Linked DNA regions of Homo sapiens: region 2 is linked to region 1. Evidence: fine-mapped expression QTL. Tissue or cell type: cerebellar hemisphere. Region 1 holds a variant in brackets; the other region holds the start of a gene. All regions are shown on one strand. Distances are between the middles of the regions.

Region 1 (5,813 bases):
CACAGTTATTTCTTTTAAACTCTACCTTGCTGCCCCAGGAGCTTTGATTTCTGAACTTTTCTACCTTGGGTTGGTCTTTGGCAGTGAGTGTCACACATCTGTCCTGCTGAGATGAGAAGCCGGAACCTGGGTCTCCACTGGAGCATCCCCATACCATCCTGTTACATGTTCCACCTGTTTTTTTGTATCCAGATCCACTTTGATATACTTGCCCAGGACACAGCAATTGTTAGTTAGTATGCTTGCTTTTTACCTTGTAAACAGTGTACAAATAGAGTCCAAATTTAGTATGCAAATTACAAAATAAAATGTTATTTTTATGACTGAAAAATGCAATGAACTGCACAAATTCATTATGGCAGAGCATATGAATATTCTCTTAGTGAAGCTCTTGCTTTCCTAGCTCAATCAACAATGTCCCTTCCTTACAGCTGCCAAGGAAAAAAACTTTCCCTAGATCTTTCAGCCATAGCTGGAAGCGCTGATGGCCCCTCCGTGTGTGCATTCAGATAAATTGTTAACTTAAATGGTTTTCCACTGAGAAGTGGAATCAGTAATAACTGGGAGTGCTAGATAGATTCTACTTGCCCGGGACCCTAGAGTGATAATTATTCTGTTACAATGAGGAGTAAGGCAAAATGCGGAGTAGTTATGACTGTATTTACCAATTTGTTGTGAAAAATTTATAAATATCAGGTAATACGTCAAAGGAATGAAGTATGACAGACCCCCTACCCTCAGAAAGGTTTTATTCTGAAGTATATAATACAAAGCAAAAAGCAAAAGATACTTAAGATGGGAACACTTAGAACACATTAAAATTCAGAGGTACGTGTGATTATTCCCAGCTAGAAGGAATCAGTGAAAGTTTTTGTGGAGATATCATTTAGGTGCAACACTAGTAGACTTTGTACATGCAATTGTGAGAAAGAAGAGAGTATTTAAGATGTGTACACTTCTATTAGCAGGGGCATGGGTATGTGCATAAATAACAGAGTAGTTGTGTATTTGTGAAGGAACTAGCGAGAAAAATGGACAGAAATGGAGGTTGGAATCACACTGTGGAGGGCTTAAATTCCAAGCTAAGGACTTTTCTCTTTAATTATAGGCAATTGGCAATAAGGTCATGGAAGTTTTGAACCTGAGAGTTAATATGAAAACCATGTATCATGCTTTGAGAAGACGAATCTGGTAACATCAGACAGTAAGACAATGTGGAGAGCAAGGAGAAGAGGTAAGAGCTGGCCAGGCCACCAAAGGCTATTCTTTATTCACATTCATGTTCAAGACTAATTAGACTGTGAAATCTCTCAGGGTATTGGAGAAACAGAACTGAGAGCTGGTCAGAAGCTTCACGGGATTAGTGTTCAGGCTGAGAGTGTCAGTAATGAATCCCGCCATGGGTGTGCCATGGCACTGTGGGAAAAAAAGTTCATTGTGCAGACTGTTACCTGCTGACATCAGCTGGATTAAGAGCTGACAAAGATGAATTATTTAATTTGGAAGAATCATTTTGGAATTTTCACATCAGTCTTACCTCTCCCCAGATAAGACGGATCTGAAAACAGATCAGTACTGATCAAATTTTGTATTGACAATAAACATTTTAATTCTAATGTTTTAATCTGTTTTATACATCATCTTTTAATTCATCTGCTAATCTGATTAAAAATCTGTGTAAAGATTTTACTTGCTAAATTTCATGTATGGGGATGTGAGTGATGTCAAAGGCCATTTTACCTTGACTGATTTGTTGAGGTTATTCTGATCTGGGAGACATTTTTGAATCAGCCATTTATAAATGTGTCAAAATTGTGTTATAAAACAGGAAAACCATTGTTTTAATTGCCAAGATGTATGTGCAATAGACATCCTTGAGCCTACCTATATCTGGGACCTAGAATTATCTTCAGAGCCTCAGTCACTGTCAAATGGGATGTAGATACTCATCCTGGCCTTCCCACTAATTGTTGTGAGGATCAAAAAGGCAGTTTATGAACCTTCTATGTACACAATAAAGAGCTACATAGTAGGGAATTGCTGTTACACAATGTTTTCTCTATTTCCAATTATTTATTTGATGGAGATGTTACATAAATAAGTGTGTGTCCCTCAAGGAGAGAGAGAATGATTAGGACACATTAAATGAAGAAGCTCCTTAGATGGGAGGCCAGTCCCTTCTACAGAACTTCCTGATCATGGGCCTGTTGGTTTATCAAAGATAGGGAAGGGATCTAGGTTAGTGATGATACAGAAATACAATAAATATTGGTCAATGAATGAGAGAGCCAATGAAATGGATACCCAATTTGCCAGTGTGGCTCCTTGTGAGACTTAGAGGAAAGCTTCTCTTCCTCTAGGTAAACTCAGCCCTGAGTTAGAGTGTCCTGATTGGTGAGCAAGTACAGGGTGAATTATCAACCCACTTGTCTCCTTGGCTAGGGAACCACGTGCAACGTACAACTTTCACAATATAGCATGTGAAATTATGATAATCAGCTCAGACAGAACTTCCTCCCATTGTTTTTCTTGAATGTAGACTCACAAGGCACTTCCTGTATTCCATTATCTTGCATCATTAGTCATCTTTCCATGGGTGCCTAATATCAACATCTTTGGCACAGGGTCTTGCACTTAGTGGAGCCTCAAGGCCTGTTCATTGTCAAAACTCAATATATGTTCAATACATGTTTCTTTGGGGCTCATATTTTCATGTGATATAATCAAAATAGGTATTGTCAAAGCTTTTTTAAGTTATCACCTCTTCATCCTCTTATTCCCCATCAATATTCCATATAACTTATGCCATGACATAATTTCAATTTAGACAGCAGATAATGAGAGTTGTCTTGCTTGATCAATGGGAAGAATTTTGGCTCCTGATGCAGCCAAGTTTTTTGAGCACACCTGGAAATCATATTAAAGAGGAGACCTTTTCCTGTTTTTAGTCCCTGATGATTGAACAGGAGCACAGAGCAGGTGCAGCATGCCACACAGAGCAAGAGGCAGGGATTCTCAAATAGGCTAGAGACAAAGCAATGGCCAGGTAAGGGAACATTTATTTTTAGACTGAAGAAAGCCTTTTGAGTGGGGTTTTGTT[T/C]CTCCTTCTGTACATTGTAATGCCTGCCAAGTCAGATTGCTGCAGAAGCTGTGCTTTTTAGCCAGGGGAAAATAATCCTGAATCTCAAAAACAGTGACCCAGAACCCAGAAAAGCATTTTTCATTCATATTTATCTCTATATAAAACAATAATAATGTAGTAATTCCCATTTCTCAAGTTCAAATTGGATCATAGGCTTTTAAAATTGTTCGTCTTTAACAGCCTAAACCTAACAGGATAGATTCCATGATCTTCATTTAAAGAATGAGCCAAGAGAATCTCACAAACTTACCAAATGATAGAGACTAACTTCAAGTCCAGGTCTGTCTGGCCCCAAATCCTGCATTGTCCTCATTATGCTTAATGTACTGGCTGCCATTCTGGATTTTATAAAGTCACATTTTCTGTTCATGTTAGATCATTGATTTCATTGCCCCTTCAATACTTTTATCAGTTCTTTGACAAAGGCACAGACTTGTGGTGGTTCTACCTATTGTCCAGAAATCCCCCAAAATGTTGTTTTTGTCAAAGCAGTGACACTATCAGGCAACTAGTATCTAATTTTTCACATGTAACTCTGATAGTCTTCCACTTATATGTTTATTGATAATCCTTTAATATCTACTCTGAATTTCTTATTCTGTTAGAAACTTTGAGCTACATAAAGTATCTTATGTGTTCCATATTTAAGTTCACATAGGGATTGATTGAATAAAAATAACAAAACCTTTGATAAACTCTTTGTTTATAAACTTTCTAACCACCCCTTCCTACAGTCACCTCCTCACTCACTTGTCATAACACAATAATATGGCTGAATCAGAAATAAGAAAATGGCAACACTTGAGCATAGTAATATAGTAAGCATTTAATCATGTTGAATTACATCTTCCTATACTATTCAGCAAAAGTTGTCAGAAAATAGTTTCATGTCAAGTTAAAGAATTCTGTTTGTGTTAATAGCTGACTCTAGTAAATTCACAAATTAAAAATAGCAGTATTAATAGACAAGTGGATCAGGACAGATGGGAGACAGGACTATATTACAGCTCTGAGTGGACAGACGTAGCAGCGTGTGGAGGTTCACATCATGAACTTTTGCTCCAGACTGTCTGCAGGAATAAATCAGAAAACCTGAGAGGACCCACAGACCCCCTGAAGGAAGTGGATTGTTCCTGCAGGACCCAGGAGACACCCCAAATACTGTGTTGGTATCCACAGCTGAGAGGCCCACAGATGGGTCACATCACAGGACTCTGCGCAGACAACCCCCAGTACCAGCCTGGGGCCTGGTAGGCTGCTGGGTGGCTAGATCCAGAAGAGATACAACAATCACTGCAGCTCGGCTCTCAGGAAGCCACATCTATAGGAAAAGGGGGACAGTACTACATCAAGGGACCACCCTGTGGGACAAAAGAATGTGAACAGCCTTCAGCCCTAGACCTTTCCTCTGACAGAGACTACCCAAATGAGAAGGAATCAGAAAACCAACTCTGGTAATATGACAAAATAAGGTTTGTTAACACCCCCAAAAAATCACACTAGCTCACCAGCAATGGACCCAAACCCAGGAGAAATCCCTGATTTACCTGAAAAAGAATTCAAGAGGTTAGTTATTAAGCTAATCAGTGAGGCATCAGAGAAAGGCGAAGCCCAATGTAAGAAAATCCAAAAAAGAATACAAGAAATGAAGGGAGAAATATTCAAGGAAATAGATAGCATAAATGAAAAAAACAACCAAAACTTCAGGAATCAATGGACACATTTATAGAAATGCAAAATGTCCTGGAAAGTCTCAGCAATAGAATTGAACAAATAGAAAAAAGAAATTCAGAGCTCAAAGACAAAGTCTTTGAACCCAATCCAACAAAGACAAAAAAGAATAAGAAAATATCAACAAAGCCTACAAGAAGTCTGGGATTGTGTTAAATGATCAAACCTAAAAATAATCTGTGTTCCTGAGGAAGAAGAGAAATCAAAAGTTTGGAAAACATATTTGGGGGAATAATTGAGGAAAACTTCCCTGACCTTGCTAGAGACCTAAACATCCAAACACAAGAAGCACAATGAACACCCGAGAAATTCAGTGCAAAAGATCATCACCTAGGCACATCGTCATCAGGTTATCTAAGGTCAAAACAAAGGAAAGAATCTTAAGAGCTGTGAGACAAAAGCACCAGATAACCTATAAAGGAAAACCTATCAGATTAACAGCAGATTTCTCAGCAGAAACCCTACAAGCTAGAAGGGATTGGGGCCCTATTTTCAGCCTCCTCAAACAAAACAATTATCAGCCAAGAATTTTGTATCTAGTGAAACTAAGCTTTATATATGAAGAAAAAATAGTCTTTTTCAGACTAACAAATACTAAGAGAATTCGCCACTACTGAACCACCACTACAAGAACTATAAAAAGGAGCTCTAAATCTTGAAACAAATCCTGGAAACACATTAAAACAGAACCTCTTTAAAGCATAAATCTCACAGGACCTATAAAACAAAAATACCATTTAAAAAACAAAAACAAAAAAAGGCATACAGGCAACAAATAGCATGATGAGTGGAATAGTACCTCACATCTCAATATTAACATTGAATGTAAATGGTCTAAATGCTCCACTTAAAAGATACAGGACTGCAGAATGAATAAGAGTTCACCAACCAACTATCTGCTGCCTTCAAGAGACTCACCTAATACACAAGGACTCACACA
Region 2 (5,813 bases), 190 kb before region 1:
TCTTTATACTGTTTTCTCTACTTTTGTGTATATTAAAATTTTCCATAATAAATTTTCACAGTGAAAATGATCTAACCTTTCTTGGCTTCCACTTCCCCATCCATAAAATAGAAATATTAACAGAATCTTCTATTGTGAAGATTAAGGTTGTATCTGACTTACAGTAAACATTCAGTAGATGCTCACTATTGTTCTCGCTCAACTATGTAAATATATAAACAGATTTAAAAAGACATGAGATATAGATCAAAGTTTTATTAGTAGATGCTTCTGGATGGTAAACCAAGAGCTAATTTATTTTTCTTTTCATCATTTATGTCTGGACTGTTCAAATATCTACAAAGAGTATTTGTTACTCTTATAATAAGACAAAAAAACCTAACTCTTTAAAAAAAGTAACTTTAAGTCTTCCTTGAGAGAGTTTAATGCCAAGGGGGCCTGAACCATGTTTGTCCCACAAGATATTTTACAAACAAGACCACTTCATGGAAGAGTAAGATGGAATGCATATTACTGTCTTGTTCACATTTTCCTCACCAAGCTCTCATGCTCAGGGTCAAAGATCCTTGTAAACGCCAGTAAGCTTTAACATGTGGCCTTCCTAGAATAGAATGAATTGAGCCTTCCTCTCCTCCAGTGTCATGCCATCCTACTCCCTTACCTTACCACACGTTCCTCCCTACTAGCAGTTTAGCCTTTTTTAAGGGGCATGGATCACTTTGAGAATATCATGAATGCTATGCCAAGAAAAATTCACATGTAGGCATACAATATTGCATTCAATTTCCTAGGGTTCATGGGCTGCCATAGTTCATCTCCACTAATTAAGCTTACTGAGGCCATGACATCAAATTTAGGAATGTAGAAACACACATCCGGTGTATAGACCACTTTGAGAAAAACTAATTTGTACAAAACCATAAGCCAGATAAATTGGTGGATAATTATGGGCATTACATATGTGGCTTTTGCTCTGCCAAATAATTTCCATTAGGACATCTATAAATAGCAAATCCATATAATGCATTTGAACCATGCCACTGTTTGCCCAAATGCTAAGCCCTTTCCAGAACACGCCTACTGCAGAGCAACAGGCCAATTCAAAAAGTTCAATACTAGTTTTACTCTTGAGTTCAGCTACATTCATTTATAGAATTCTAGCTTTCCTCTAAAATGGCCACTAACCTATATCACTCTGGGGACTGATGTTCAATGGGAGGCAATGATACCCAGAAACTTTTTGACTGAGGAGAGGTAGTGCATGTGTATGGGTTATCAGATTGCTTTGGAGTGGATCATTTGAGATGAGATAGATTCCATCTCTTTATCTCAGGAAGGAAAAGGATAAACATGATTGAGTCCTTACAGTATACCAGGTGGACATTAGGGCCTCTCATGTACTCCTCACAATGTCTCTGGAAGTTGGGGCTTTTTCCCTCATTTCCAACCGAGTTTTAGAAAAGTTGACACACATACCCCAGGTCTGGCAGCCAGTAAGTAACAGGAAAAAAATAAAAATAAATAAGATGTAAAGCTTTCGGGCTTAGATTACCATCATTGATGGTTAACTTCAGGGGGCTGGGAAATGTACAGTGCCCAGTATCACACCAAATCCCCAGAGCCACTCAGGCTGTGATTTTCATCCTCCTGATCATATCAATGGCTTCCAGGGATGCATGTGAAGAGAGACAGGATCGCAGTCTTCCTTGCCCCATCTGGCCTGTCCCTATCCTATAAACTGGCAACCCCTTTCCTTTGCTGGTATACACGGACTGCCTCACATTCCCCAAATGCCTGGGGATCGCACAATGAAATCAGAATAAAGAGCCAGGAGCTCTACACTTAAAAGAATCCACATAACTACAAACTCCATCTTAGGATTTCCACCACCAGCTGAGTTGCCATTTGGCATTGCACTGCTAGCAGCCACATTTTACTCTATCCTCTTCCAAGATTTTCAAACATGTGCCTGGCACCCACGGGAGTTTCAGAGGAAGTGTAACAGTGACAGGAGAACTGCTGCGGGCTTGGTTTTTTGTATACGTGTTAGTGTAACTTTCATAAAAGCAAGTATAGGTTCTTAGAGTATTAACTTTCACAAGAGGAACATCAACTTTCAGACAAACGCAGGCAAACCCTTTCTTTTTCTTTTTCTTTTTTAGTGAGTAGTATCTGAAGGTAGGGGTGATCCCTGTTAAGCAAAAGGTCTCTGAGACCCTTGGGATACATACATGCTTTTCTGGCCCAGTACTCAAGCTTTTCTGGAAGAGTATCCCTCGGCTGTCTCCATCCCTCAGCCTTCAGAAGCCACCTAATACCTACCTACACGTGCTTTGGACACAAGCAGGTTCAAAGCACAAAAAAAACCAAGCTACCACCCCGCAAGAAATCGATCTCTGAACCCGGAGCCACCATGAATTGCGTGTGTGAATGTGTGGGCGGGAAGGCTGGGTCCACAGGGACGTGGTCCAGCATCGTGAGCAGCGGGTCCTACCGGACGTTCAAGTCCTACAGCCCTGGGCTAACTAGCAAGTCTCAGACCCCCACGCCCGTGCTAGATAGGAGGAGAGACAAAGCTGGACCGACAGGAGAGGAGAGTGAGTTTGTGTTCTCTTGGGGGCAAGCGTGCTCGGTACCTTGGATTCCTGGCTGCTGGTGGATGCAGGAGAGGGCGGTTGCTCGGCGCCCACCGCCTCCTTGGGCAGCCCGTCCACGCCGTCCTCGCGGGGGCTGCTCGGAGGGATCATCGTGGCCGCGCGGGAACGGTGTTGGGCTCCCGGAGGAACAGCGAGGCTTCTGTCCTGCGCGCCCTGCCCGCCGCGCGCCAGGCTGCTCAGCTCCGGGTCCTGGGGACTCCCATCCTCGCCGAGGCGCCGACGTGCCCTCCTCCAGCCTCGCTCCCTCTCCCTCCCCGCCCTGCCCACCTCCCCGGCACTTCCGCGGGCGTGGAGGAGAGTGCGCCCTGCCCCGCCCCGCCGCGCCCGCGGCCACCTCGCCGGCGACCTCACAGTCGTGACTGCCACTCGGCAGCGGGCGAGCGGGCTTCTGCTCGCCCGCAGGAGGAGGAAGGAGGCGGGGAGGCAGCTCCAGGGCGGGGCTGCGCGGCCAGCGCCTGGAGTAGTGAGGGCAGGCAGGGGGCAGCGCCCTGGAAAGGGCTGGGGGAAGGCTGGGCGCACGCCGGCACTGGGTGGGGGTGATTCTTCAGAGAGGATGCTGAAAATTCAGACCCAAACCCCAAAGAATAGAAAATCTGTGAATGATATAGCCAGAAAGAGCCACTTGCAACAACTCCCTCATTCCTCACCCCAACGAATAGTGACTGAGACAGTGACTTAGCTAAGCTATTTATAGGGTTCAGTGACAGAGAGCAGGGGTCGGAGTGGGGGTCCCCTGACTCACGGGCACTGCGTTTTCTCCATTCAGCTTTGATCTAAAGCAGAGAGATAATGCAGTGTGTATATGGACACCTGTTCCTCGTTTGTTGTGCACTTATTGTACTAAACCCTTTCTTTTTACCTTATTTAATCCTCCCAGCTACTCTATGCGTCTAGGGATTATCACTTCCATTTTATAGATGAGGAAGTTGAGGCTGTAGGAAGACTGAGTAATTTGCTTTAAGTCACTAAACTATAATTGGTGAAACTGGAATTCGAACACATTTGGGCTTCAAAATCCATGCATTTCCGACTGTGGAGCCTCAAATCTAGGCCAGGTCTTGGCTGAAGAGCAATTGGATGTTGCAGTATAGCAAGAGTTGAGGACTGTTCACAGAGGGGCAAACCAGCCTGCCTTACTAAATCTTTTGGAAACATAGGAATAGCCCCACTGAATAAAGATACAGAGGGTCCAGTTTCTTTTGAAGACAACCTCAGTGTGCAGGGAAAAGAAACACACCTAGATATTTAAAAGCCTCTTTTCCCCCATTAATACAAAATACCCTCAATTTTTTAAAACAAAATTGCAAACTTCTGTTCAGATTTTTAAAATTAGCTGTAGATGTTTGCAAGAACAGCTTCATGGATGTGCAACCTGTGCAGTCACACAGGGCCCCGCGCTGATGCTGCCATCTTGAAATTCGGTAAAAATATTTAACAAGAGATCACATTTTCATTTTGTACTTGACCCTGCAAATTATGTGTTTGGTCCTGCATCCATGCCCTAGCTCATGTCTTTTAGAATAAACTTGCTCTTACTCTTTCCATCCCAGATGTCAATTGAAAGCTACTGTTCAATGTGTCAGCCTCTTACTCAGCATTTAGCTTTCAAAATGCTCTAAATTTTCTGGTGACCCTCAGTACGGGGCCAGATTGGCTAGCCCAAATGGCTTCAGCTTTTTCCTTCTCACAACACAATGCCTGAGTGTTCGATAGAGACAGAATTCTAGTAGCCAAAGTCACAAACACAATGACAGGAGCAGCCATATCAACACATTTTTATCAAGCATCTATTCTGTATCAGAATTGTGCCAGAAACTAATGATACAGCAGAGAGAAAACACAGATTAAGTCTGTTTTCCTGGAATTTAAGTCTAGTGGGAGAGACAGCAATTAATTAAATCACACACACATTTAAAAAAAAACTATGATAAGGGAAAGTACAAGACTTTGATGAGTGTGTACAAATGAAGCCTGAGCTAGCATGGGGCCAGACGAGGGTTTTCTTAGGAAACAAAACTCCCAGGGTCTACTGGCAATTCCAGTCTTGGTGAGCAAGCATGTCATGGCTTAGAACAATAAATTTTTCATCCTTTTTTTCTTTTGGATTTTCTTTTTTTAAGAATTGAAGATGTCATCCTTACTTTTAGTAAGTGCTTAGCTCAAGTTAGCAACAGTATTAGCCAATAGTATATGTTTAAATGTTGTCCCTTGAAGGAAATTTAGAGAAGCTAGTACCTCCTTCCTTTCCACCCCACCCTGATCCAGCAGCAGAAATCCTTAGTCTGATAAATAATACCTACCATAGGAATTAGCCATGGTGTCCCAAACTAAATCACGCCTTTGTTTATGTGTTAGTTTCACATTATTTTCTATCCGATCTTTTGTTATCTAGCTAACTTATCTTATTCTTCAAATCACATATCCAAGTATTTACTACTCTTGACATCTCCTTCCTTGACCCATTTATCTGATTTAGATTCCCAAATCAATGCCATGTTCCCATGACTTCCTTTCCTAAGTAATCAATGACAAGGTTGCCTGCTCTTCTGTTGGGCTATGATCTCCCCTAGGGCAGGGGCAATGCCATGTTCATCTTGTTTCTCTAGCTCCTGGTATAATGCTTGTTAACAAGGTGGTGAAAAGAGGCTACCCTTGTAGCCCCTGAGCTCTAGAAATGGTCTAGGCATTAATTATTGCATGTGTCCTCCACAAACTGAATGGAAGAAGACTCTGAATGCTTCTGTAAAACAATGGGATTTGTCAGTGCTTTGAGTCAGTAGATGGTAGACCAGCAAAGTGATCCCCAGAGTACCCCTCATGAAGCATTGATATCCCTGAGCAGAAGTGTACATTTTCATGGCTATGTGTGAGATACCCCATCTGACACCCAGGAATGCTTAGGTGAGACCTCACAGAAGACTGGAAATTCTGCCTTAGAAGCTTTATGACATTTTAGCTATGGTTGTCAAGATTTCTCATTTCTACTGCAGTCTGGTAAAGCCTGAGGAAAAAAGGTTGTGAATAATTATTCTAAGTCTCAAGTCTGTAGCTTTGTGATTTTTGTAGATCCCCTTCATGGTCTATTTCACTCTGGTTTCTGGGTAAATATCAAGCCAGCAGAAGTGTGAGGTGTACAGAAATTTATCTGCACAAACT

What was found. PIP is the estimated chance that this variant, and not a neighbour inherited with it, causes the effect.
Region 2: STAC starts here. The variant in region 1 is fine-mapped to the expression of STAC in cerebellar hemisphere (GTEx, PIP 0.98).

Annotation. Positions count from the first base shown.
Region 1 is chr3:36,190,335-36,196,147 of GRCh38, reverse strand. No RefSeq gene overlaps it. Among named protein-coding and RNA genes, the nearest start is that of STAC, 190 kb to the left of the region's middle. The variant T/C (reference allele first, on the strand shown) is at 3,101.
Region 2 is chr3:36,377,578-36,383,390 of GRCh38, reverse strand. STAC (SH3 and cysteine rich domain) reads right to left here and starts at 2,887. Exons shown (of 11, transcript NM_003149.3): 1 at 2,637-2,887. The coding sequence starts at 2,747. All of the region lies in intron 2 of LOC124906227 (a long non-coding RNA gene), which reads left to right.